2 separate regions of the Homo sapiens genome follow, and region 2 is linked to region 1. A link means that fine-mapping ties the variant in region 1 to the expression of a gene that starts in the linked region. Tissue or cell type: testis. Region 1 holds a variant in brackets; the other region holds the start of a gene. All regions are shown on one strand. Distances are between the middles of the regions.

What was found. PIP is the estimated chance that this variant, and not a neighbour inherited with it, causes the effect. A credible set is the group of variants that fine-mapping cannot tell apart.
Region 2: it holds the start of LINC00408, and the variant in region 1 is the best candidate, but not a certain one, in a credible set for the expression of LINC00408 in testis (GTEx, PIP 0.74).

What each region holds. Positions count from the first base shown.
Region 1 is chr13:18,940,594-18,945,971 of GRCh38, forward strand. No RefSeq gene overlaps it. Among named protein-coding and RNA genes, the nearest start is that of LINC00408, 38 kb to the left of the region's middle. The variant G/T (reference allele first, on the strand shown) is at 3,006.
Region 2 is chr13:18,902,741-18,908,118 of GRCh38, forward strand. It overlaps LINC00408 (long intergenic non-protein coding RNA 408), which reads left to right and starts at 2,699. Exons shown (of 6, transcript NR_104118.1): 1 at 2,699-2,836; 2 at 3,287-3,370; 3 at 3,757-3,918; 4 at 4,895-5,062.

The DNA of each region.
Region 1 (5,378 bases):
TGATGGCCACTGTTGCATATGACTATTCTTTAGGTTTGCTGCAACATGGTAATTGAGCTTTTCTTTTGAAAGTGTGAGATTAGTTTTTCAACACTAACTGATGACAATAGCCTGTCTCTGAAGGAGTTAAACCTAGCTGCTAAGGCAGGCAGTGTTTTATCTATGTAAGAGCCATTTACTGCACTGTCTTCCACCTTGAATTAGAGGTGGGCAAGGTAATCTTATCAACAGTTCGAAGCAAATCCATTTTTGGATTTCGAATTATGAGATGGCACTATATATTGCAGAGTGGTCTCTCTCGCATTATTTCAAGTTATTTCCACAATTCTATAAAGTAGATTAGATGTTTGTTAGATGAGAATTGTTAGATGAGAAAACTGAGACATATATAGTTAAATCACCTTAGTCATTTGCCTTAAGAGACAAGCTCTCAAATTATTTTCTTCATTTTTAGTCAGAAAGTTATATTATTTCCAAAGGATAATATTAATATGTACTCTAATATAAAATATATTACAAAGTTTAAGCATTAGAGAACTACATAATGCAGGAAGAGAAAGACCCACATAATCACCTTCCCCTTCCAATAACTGTTTTCAGTTCCCTTTCTTCCTTTTTCTACACATAATATCTATATATATTTTCATTTTTTACTATTTACAAAAATGCAATAATAATGGATTCTATTCTCTACATACTATCTAAAATTTGTTAGAATTTTTTCTCTGCTTAGTAATAAGGGGAAAAATAATATTTCTCTGTGATTGTTTTTGTACATTTATTTGGATTATTTTAAGTTTTTATTACTAATAAAAATGTTGTAATAAGAATTCTTGTTTATAGTTTTTTGCTCTCAGGTAAACTTTTGTTTAATTTACAAAATGTAGTATGTATCAATAAGTAACATGTAGTTGAATAATTACATATGTATTTCATTCAATGCACTATGTGAAATATATTATTTCATTAAATTCCTGACAATACACAGGAATTATTGACTAAATGTCAGAAGATGATTTAAAAAATTAAGGTAACATTTTTCTAAATTTAATCTGTGAAAATACCTTTACAACTTTTTTGAAGGAAATTGGTCAATCTGTGTGTATTTAACTGTTTAGTAAACCAAGTAAAAACATATTTATCAGGTATTCACAATGGAAAACATGTAAGCTAATCCCTTGTGGAGGAAGGGAAGACAAGGAGAAATGAGTTATTCAATCTCTGTTATGCTCCAATCATTGTGTGAGACTTTTTTTTTACTGCTGTTCTGTAATCTACAAACCATTATGTACATTATGAATTACTATTAATTTTGTTATATAATCTGATGCTTCAAATGGTAAAATAAATAAATAAACACATAAATAAAACCCAAGTTTACAAAGTTTGTAAGTGGTAAAGTTGAGATTTGAACCAAATATTTGATCCTAAGGTTAAAACTATTCTTATTTCACCATATTGCATGTGATATGATGCAAAGATATGAAATGTTTTGTGAATAAACAGTCTATTATCCACTTTGCTTGTAAAGGGCATATCTATACAGAGAGATATAGATATGATATATTGTTTCTTATAATAGTGGGGTTTCATGAATTTAATTACACATTTTTTTCCTGTAAAAATAAATCTAATTCAGCTGATTGATTTTTTTCCATGGGTAACATTAAGGTAAAAGTGTCAGTGTTGCAAACTTGGACAGAGACATCATTTTAGAACCCAAAAATTAAGTTTCTGTAAAAATGTAAAAGTAAAAATGTAATCTCTTTAATAAGTCTAGGTTCTAAGTCATTACTACTAACGTTGTGGAGAATGTCAACATGAACATTAAACACTTTGCAGAGCAAAACAATTGAGGATTTGCCAAGAATTAGAGCAACATGATGAAACATAACTTTAATTTTTGAAGACAAAAATTACTCGAGTTTATTACAAATAGCTCAGAGTGGTTAAAGAGGACTCCTATCATATTCTGATAAATTTTAAATCATCAGTTCAGCTCCTCCATATTCAGTACAATCCCCTCTTTATTGTAAGTGCATCTGCCCTTACAATCACAGTGGCTGCTTTTTCTACCACACTTTGAAATAGCCAGTAAATATCGAGAATTTATATTTACACAGAGAGATCATCTATGAAATCTTACATGTATTTATTTCATCTTAAGAAATAGTATAACAGTTGATCAAATGTTGCATAAACTCCTCCAGGACAGTAAACTGCACGTTCCTATTAAGTGAAATAAACTATCCCAGATGCCAGAATCCCACTGGGGGAAGTTTTCTGTGAAAGCATGCATTCGTCGCAAAGACACGGACAACTTATTCCCCAGGAAATATTCATTTACTATGACATCAGGGTTTTTATCGTACACCTGAAAATTTATTAGAATAAAACAGTGTATTTAAAGAAACTTACCCTAGCAATCATAACGCAGAAGCAGTTAATGACAGGTATCTTTTTTAAAAAGGCATTGAATGTCATTAAAGCAAGTCACATGACTGTGATTGTGACTAAATTGTGTAGCCATCAGTAATCCTTTTCTTTCAGTTTTAGGGACGTGCTATTATACATTGAAAGCAAAGGGGTCATTGCCTTGTAAAGTCTGCCTGAATCATCGTTTCTTAGGGGTTGCCGGAAAGGCATTGGCCTCTGCGGGAGAACCCCAGCCTCCTCCTGGGGCCTCTCCGCTTTTTTCCCCAGATGCCCCAACGTCCCCCTGCAAGCCTGGCGTCCTGTCCCTGTCCCATGGGGAACTTCTTGCCGCTTTGGGGTGCCGCCCGTGGGGGAGACACGCACCCTGGGTGCAAGTCAGGGACTCCACAACCCTCCCGGCCCTGCGCAGGGGCTTCCGGGAAGGCACTACCATCTGTGGAACCACCACAGCCGCCTCCTCGGCCTCGCTGTTGTTTTCCCTGGGCTGCCTCAACATACCCCCGCAAGCCTGGCATCCCGTCCCCGTGACCCGGGGGACTTCTTGCCGCTTTGGAGGGCCCCCGGTGGGG[G/T]GAGACACAGGGTGAAGCCGGGGACTCCACGACCCCCTGGGCCCCACGCAGGGGCTGCAGGGAAGGCACTGGCCTCTGAGGGATGATCCCAGCCTCCTCGGCCTCACCGCTTTTTCCCCCGGCTACCTCAACCTCCCCCTGCAAGCCTGGCGTCCTGTACCCGTGACCCAGGGGACTTCTTGCCACTTTGGGGTGCCGCCCATGTGGGAGACACGCACCCTGGGTGCTAGCCAGCGACTCCAGGACACGCCGGGCCGGGCGCAGGAGCTGCCGGAAAAGCAATGGCGTCCGCGGGATGACCCCTTCCTCCTCCTGGGCCTCGCCGCTTTTTTCCACCTGCTGCATCAACATCCGCCTGCAAGCCTGGCATCCTATTCCCCTGCCCCGGGGGACTTCTTGCCGCTTTGGGGTGTCCCCTGTGGGGGAGACGCGCACTCTTGAGTGCAAGCCAGGGACTCCAGGACCTTCACGGGCCGGGGAAGGGACTGCCGGGAAGGCACTAGCCTCCGCGGGACGACCCCAGACTCCTCCTCGGACTCACCACTTTTTTCACCGCATTGCCTCAACGTTCCCCTGCAAGCCTGGCGTCCTGTCCCCGTGTCCCGGGGCACTTCTTGCCGCTTTGCGGTGCCCACGGTGGTGTAGACACGCACCCTTGGTGCAAGCCAGGGACTCCACGAACCCCCGGGCCCGGCGCAGGGGCAGCCGGGAAGGCACTGGCCTCCGCGGGAAGACGCCAGCCTCCTCCTCGGCCTCCCCGCTTTTTTCCCTGGCCTGCCTCAACGTCCCCATGCAAGCCTTGTTTCCTGTCCCAGTGCCCCGGGGAACTTCTTGCTACTTTGGGGTGCCCCCCGTGAGGGAGACCCTGGGTGCAAGCCACGGACTCCATGACCCCCGCGTGCAGGTGCTGCCGGGAGGCACTGGCCTCAGAGGACCCCAGCCTCCTCATCCTTACCCCTTTTGTCCCCGGGCTGTCTCAACGTCACTCTGCAAGCTTGGTGTTTGTCCCCATGCCCCGGGGGACTTCTTGCCCCATTGGGGTGCCCTCCGTGTCGGAGACCCCACCCTGGGTGCAAGCTGGGGACTCCACGATGCCTCTCCAGTGGCACAGGGGCTCCCACGATGGCACTGGCCAACTCGTGATGACCACAGCCTCCTTCTAGGCCTTGCCGCTTGTTTCCCCGGCGTGCCTCAACGTCTCCCTGCAAGCCTGGCGTCCTGTCCCTGAGCCCCGGGGGGACTTTTTGCTGCTTTCAGGTGCCCCCCATGGGGAAGACAGGCACTCTGGGTGCAAGCCAGGGACTCCACGACCATCCCCCACCCAGCCAGGGCCGGTGCAGGAGTGGCCAGGAGGGCACTGGCCTACTCGGGATGACCACAGCCGCCTCCTCGGCCTCGCGCTTGTTTCGCCGGGCTGCCTCGACGTCCCCCTGCAAGCCTGGCGTCCTGTTCCCGTGCCCCGGGGCACTTTTTGCCACTTTCAGGTGCCCCCCCACCGTGTTGGAGACACGCACCCTGGGTGCAAGCCAGGGACTCCACAACCCCCCTGGGCCCGTGGGAGGATCATTTGAGCCTGGGAGATCGAGGCTGCAGTGAGCTATGATCATGCCACTGAACTCCAGCCTAGGCAAGACAGCGAGACCTTACCTAAAAAAAAAAAAAAAAAAGGAAGAAACATTGGTCATTTGTGATGGATATCTGTAGCTTTGCTTTCCCAAAATCTATTTTCCTTTCTTTGGGTCCCTGATTTGCCTGCAGGCACCACAACTGCAGCATTGTCTGTAACTCAGGAAGAACTGTCCTTACCATTGGCTACAGTAGTAAAGATAGCTGATCAGTATTTTGTTTTTGTTTTTTTTTTAAATCAGCCACTCTGGCCACAGTAACTATTAGAGAAAGTATGTGATCAAGCCTGACCAATTAAAGCCAAAAAGACTGAGGGGATTTTAATCGGGAGCTCTCAGGATAAAGATAACCTCATCACTAGGATCACTAAGAAGAGAGAATTGAACCTGAAGCTGCGGGGAAACACCTTCCTAAGAATGGTGCCCAACCTGGGAAAACAGCTCCTGCATTCTGCTTTGTCTAAGGCCAGCTCTAAAACACGTTATCCCAATCACTTCTCAGCCTTTTGGCTAAGATTAAGAGTAAAACACATCCCTAGGGCTTTCATTGTATTAATAAAACAAGTGAATAAATTGCCTTTTCCTTTATGAGTTTGTTTTCTTTCCTGTTCAATGTAAAAACCATGCTTTATACCCCATGTTGATTTTTTTTTTTAATAATAAGAGGTGAGGCCCCCATTCGGTAAAGGGATTTGCCTAGGGTCTCAAATATACCCAACTGGATCCCATGGATTCTGACTCTTGCCTG
Region 2 (5,378 bases), 38 kb before region 1:
GGATCTCGGCTCACTGCAAGCTCCGCCTCCCGGGTTCACGCCATTCTCCTGCCTCAGCCTCCCAAGTAGCTGGGACTACAGGCGCCCACCACTACGCCCGGCTAATTTTTTGTATTTTTAGTAGAGACGGGGTTTCACCGTTTTAGCCGGGATGGTCTCGATCTCCTGACCTCGTGATCCGCCCGCCTCGGCCTCCCAAAGTGCTGGGATTACAGGCGTACAGTCAACTCTTTTAACAAAGGCACCAAAAACACACATTCGGGAAGGACAATCTCTTCAATAAACTGTGCTAGGAAAACCCAACACCCACATGTACAAGAATACATCGAGGCTGTTATCTTACCATCTACTGAAAATAAAGATTTAAATGTAGGACATGAAACTATGAAACTACTAGAGAAGAAAACAGCAAAATGCCTCATGAAATTGGTTAGGACAAGGGATTTTCAAATACACATCAAAAACACAAGCAACAAAAAGCAAAAATAGACAAAATGCAATTGCATTAAACTTAAACGCTTCTGCAAAGTAGAGAAAGCCATCAATAGAATGAAGAAACAATCCAGAGAACGGAAGAAAGTATTTGCAAACTATGCATCAGGCAAGGGGTTAATACAACACAAAATATATAAAGAACTCAAACTACTCAAAGCAAAAATACAAATAATCTGATTTAAAACTCAGAAAAAGTTCTACCCAAAAATTTTGTCCCCCACCTTCTTTTCTCAACCACCTTTGGCCCCCTCCCTCTCGCCACCCTTTTTCTTCATCTACCCCAAAACATTTCTCCCACTATTTTTCCCCACTGTCATTTCGCAAAGCCTTCTCTACTCTCCTGCTCACCACCCTTTTCGCCATCCATCTACCCAAAAACTTTTCCCCCCTCACTGGACACCCTCTTTTTCTCCCTTCTGCTCTCATTCTCCTTTTGCTCCTCCATCTACCCAACTTTTCCCTCATATTTTCCCAAGGCCTTCTCGCCATTCCTGCTGCTCGCCACCCGCTTTTCCAACCTCCATCTACCCAAAAACTGTTTTCCCCATCGTCTTTCCCCCCTCCTCCTTGCCACCCTCTTTCCCTTCTCCATCTACGCAAAAACGTCTCCCCACCGTCTTTTCACAAAGCCTTCTCCCCACTCCTGCTCACCACCCTCTTTCTTCCTCCATCTACCCCCGCAAATTTCCCCACCGTCTTTTCACTAAGCCATCCCCGTTCCCACTCGCCCTCTTCTTTCCTCTATCCTTACCATCCTCCTTTTGCCCTCCATCTACCCCAAAACTATTTTCCCCATCGTCTTTTCCCCAACTTTTTCCCTCCTCCCTCTCGCCACCCTCTTTTCTCCTTCCACTTGCCACCCTCTTTTCCCGCTGCGTCTACCCACATTTTACCCACCGTCTGTCTTTTCTTTCCCCACCATCTGTCTTTTCTGCCCACCATCTTTTCACAAAACCTTGTCTCCCTCCCACTCGCCATCCTCTTTTCCCCTCTCCCGCTTGCCACCCTCTTTTCCCCCTCCATGTACCGAAAAACTTTTCTCTCCCCACTGTCTTTTCCTCACGGTCTTTTGGCAAAACCTTGTCTCCCTCTGCTTGCCACCCTCTTTTGTCCCTCCTGCTCACCACCCTCTTTTCCTCATTCCTGCCCCTCCTCTTACATGCCACCTTCCTGTCGCCCTCCATCTACCCCAAAACTATTTTTCCATCGTCGTTTTCCCAATCCTCCTTCCACTCTCCCGCTTGCCACCCTTTCTCTCCTCCATCTACCCAAAAGCTTCTCCCCCAGTTTTTTCTCCCCACTGTCTTTTCTTCCCACCGTCTTTTTGCAAAACCTTCTCCTTCCTCCTACTCGCCACCCTTTTTTCTTCTCCTGATCACCACCCTTTTTTCTCCATCTACTGAAAAAAAAGTATTTCCCCACCATCTTGTCCCCACCGACTTTTCACAAAATCTTCTCTCCCTCCTGCTCACCACCTTCTGTCTTCCCCCTCCCTCTCTGCACCCTCTTTCTTCCTCCCACGTGCCACCCTTTCCCACCTCCATCTACCCAAAATCTTTTTACACATCTTTTCTTTCCCCAGTCTTTCTGTTCTCCTCACCGTGTTTCTCCCCACCGTCTTTTTGCAAACCTTCTCTCCTTCCTACTTGTCCCCGTTTTCCCCCCCCACCACCCTGTCTTTCCTCCTTCTACATGCCACCCTTTTTTACCCCCTAGATACCCAAAAACTTTTTTCAACCATCTTTTCCCCACCGTCTTTTTGCAATGCCTTCTCCTGCTTGCCATCCTCTTTTCCCTTTGCTGCTAGCCACCCTCTTTATCCCTCCATCTACCCAAAAACTATGTACCCCCTCCTACCACTCCAGCCGAGCTGCCGTCTCTGTCGCCAGCACCCACCACAGCGAGGCGAGCCGTGGTGCCACACGCTCCAGCCTCCAGCTGTGGCAAGTGACTACCCCTTCTCCTGGTCCTCTAAGCCTGGCACGGAGCAGCTGCGCAGGCAGCCACACAAGAGCCTGGAATGGCCTGATGCCCCTTCTGCATGCCTTATACATGAGCTTATGCAAATGAGGTTCCTGGACTACATATTCTGATTGGATGAGAGAAAACCTCTAGGCCTATTCTGATTGGACTTTATTTTCATGCTGTGATTGGTTGTCCTAAGACTTGCTCTCATCCAATCAGAATCGAAGCTGGGAGCTCAGCTTAGAGAACAGGAAGTGGGAGCCACATACCCCGAGCTGGCGGCTTGAGCCTGTGGTATCTAGGCTCACCTCACTGCGGTTGGTGGAGGTGATGGAGGTTGCAGCTTGGCCAGCATGGTAGAAAGGTGGCAGGGTAGGTGAGCTATCCAGGGATGCGCTACCCTGGGTAGGAGCACTATCAAGGTCACATTGCCGGTGGGGTATCGGGGGCATGGGTTGGCGGAGTTGGTGGGGGCTATACTGCCTGGTGGTGGGGGTGGTTGTGTGTACTAAGGGGGCTGACCGCCAGCTAGGGGGAGGGTTAGGGGTGCTATCAGCTCCTGCACTGTCATGGCAGGGGGGCAGGTTGGGGGCACTATCTGGGCTGTCACTACCCCCAGCAAGGGCTGGTTGGGGGCACTATCCCTGGCTGCACTGCTGGGGGCAGTGGGGCAGTTTGGGGGCACTATCAGGTTTACATGCCCTGTGGCATGCCGGTGGGGGGGCACTATTGGGGGTTGCACTGCACTGCTGCTTCTGGCAACGGGCTACGGGGGTGGCTGCGATAGCTGTGGCCTCCAAGGAAGGGGCCGTCCTCCTCTTCCCAGACTCTAGATTCTAGAGGGCAACCTCTGTTTGCTCATGCTGGAGCGTGGCAGGTGCACAATGTTTCCTTGGGAATCCTCAGCAGGGTAAGGCCCCCACACCCGCCATGGTTCCCGGGCCTGCCCCTTCTCACTGTGTTGCAGAGACAATCTGGGACCCCTGGGCACGGAGTATTGGGCACCACGGGGGAACAGGGTCCTGTGGGTGGAGGCATCAGAAACAGGAACTGGCACTTGGTTGGAGAGAGCTAGCTGGGTCTGAGTTTCTGCTTCTCCTGCTCACCAAGGAGTGCAGCCAGCGTGGGCCCAGCAGTTCCTGGCCAGCTGGACCTCGCCAGGGGCCGGTTTCAGCAAAGGCAGTCACACCCACCCCAGGTCCCAGTTGTGCCTTTGATGAAACCAGCCCCTGCCACCCAGTGGCCAGCATGACAAGGTGAGCCTCTAACACTACCACTCCCTGCATCCTGTTCTAGGCACGTCTGGCTTTTACCACCCAGTTGCTTCGAGCCAGGAGATGGAGGAGTCATCTGTTGCACGCTGGAGGCTGGAGCCTGCAGATGGCATGGTTCTGTGGCTCACCTCGCTGCAGTTGGTGGCAGAGACAGAGACTGCAGCTTGACCAGAGTGGTGGAGTGGTAGGAGAGTGTCTGCGGGGGCCTCCTGGAGGTGGTAGGAGGCTTGTAGGGTGGGCCGGTGCATTGAGGGCAACAGCAGCGGTGCTCATGTTGGTGTTGGCATTAGTGGTGGCGGCAGCAGCAAGTCTGGGATCCGAGAAGTGGGAGTGGGAATGCTGTGGAGCCCACCGGGCCCAGCCTGGCCTGAAGTGGGGAGGCAGCTGCGGGTGCTGTACTGTGGGCCTAGGTGGCAGCAGTGGAGGCCCAGCCATGGCAAGGAGGAGTCCTCCTCCTTCTCCTGCAGAATCTGGAAGTGCCCTCCTCCTGCTGGTGCCTGGGCCAGGTGTGAGTGGCAACATTGTCTTATTCTTAGCAAAATTTAGCGGGTGACTATTGGTGTATCTTTTAGCTTGGCTTTGTTGTGAAAAGTCTTGAATTTTTTTCAAATTTCATAAATCAGGAGGGGAAATAAGGTATCATAATAGGCTTTGTAATTCCCGCACCTGTTCTTCCTTTCTTTCAGTCTGTTTTTTCTTCTTCTAATCATCATCTTCTTGTTCCTCTTCATTTTCTTATGCTGCTGCTTCTGTTTCTTGTTTATATTCTTGTTTCTCCTCCTCTTGTTTTCATTATCCTAAGCAATGGCCTTAACAAACAACAAACCAAAACTGAGTTAAACATAAACTACTTGTCACCGAGTTGTATTCTTAAAATAATCAGTCCATTACTATGCTTTAGAGATGAGGAAAAACATTGATTGCGTAATTATTTGGTTACTTGAATAGCTATGCTTTCATGATCCTTTTAATGTGTTGTAAGTAGTTATTCAAGGAATCAAAAATGAAGCATCAGATAAAATATTGCTAGCAAACAGCCATTTCATCTCTCTCACATAGTCTGGAGCTATGCAAGAGTCAGGGGGTAATTAGTTCCAATTTATGAGATCATTAAGTGAACTGTATTCCTTTCATTTTATTTCTCTGCCACCATTTTCAAGAGTATTGTCATCTGCATGAGCAAATCTGGTTCATCACATCTTTGCAACAGGAAAAGGAAGGGAGGATCATGTGTATAATGTTTTAAGGCCAAGATTCACAACAAGAACAAAGTCTTTATTAACTTTTGCCTTCAAGAACCTGCAGTGTTGAGCCCTTTTTTATTTCTGGTATTACTACCTTTGGTATGAAATCTTTTTTTAGTGATTACTTGAAGTTTATGCATTTTATTGACTACTTTAAAGAAACAATCTATATTGTATCATTTTTCAAGCCCACAGGAATGCATAAAGTCTATAATTTTGACACTTTTTATTTTTAAGGTTATGAGCATGTAAAATACTGTTGATATGTGTAAGGATATGTAAAAATGCCACTAGATAGCTTATGTTGAAGAGATAGTGTCTAAATTTTTGTCCAGAGTGGATTGGTTGCAGTTTCTTAGGTGTGTTCCTCAATACATTGCCTCAATGTTTTAAAGCATAT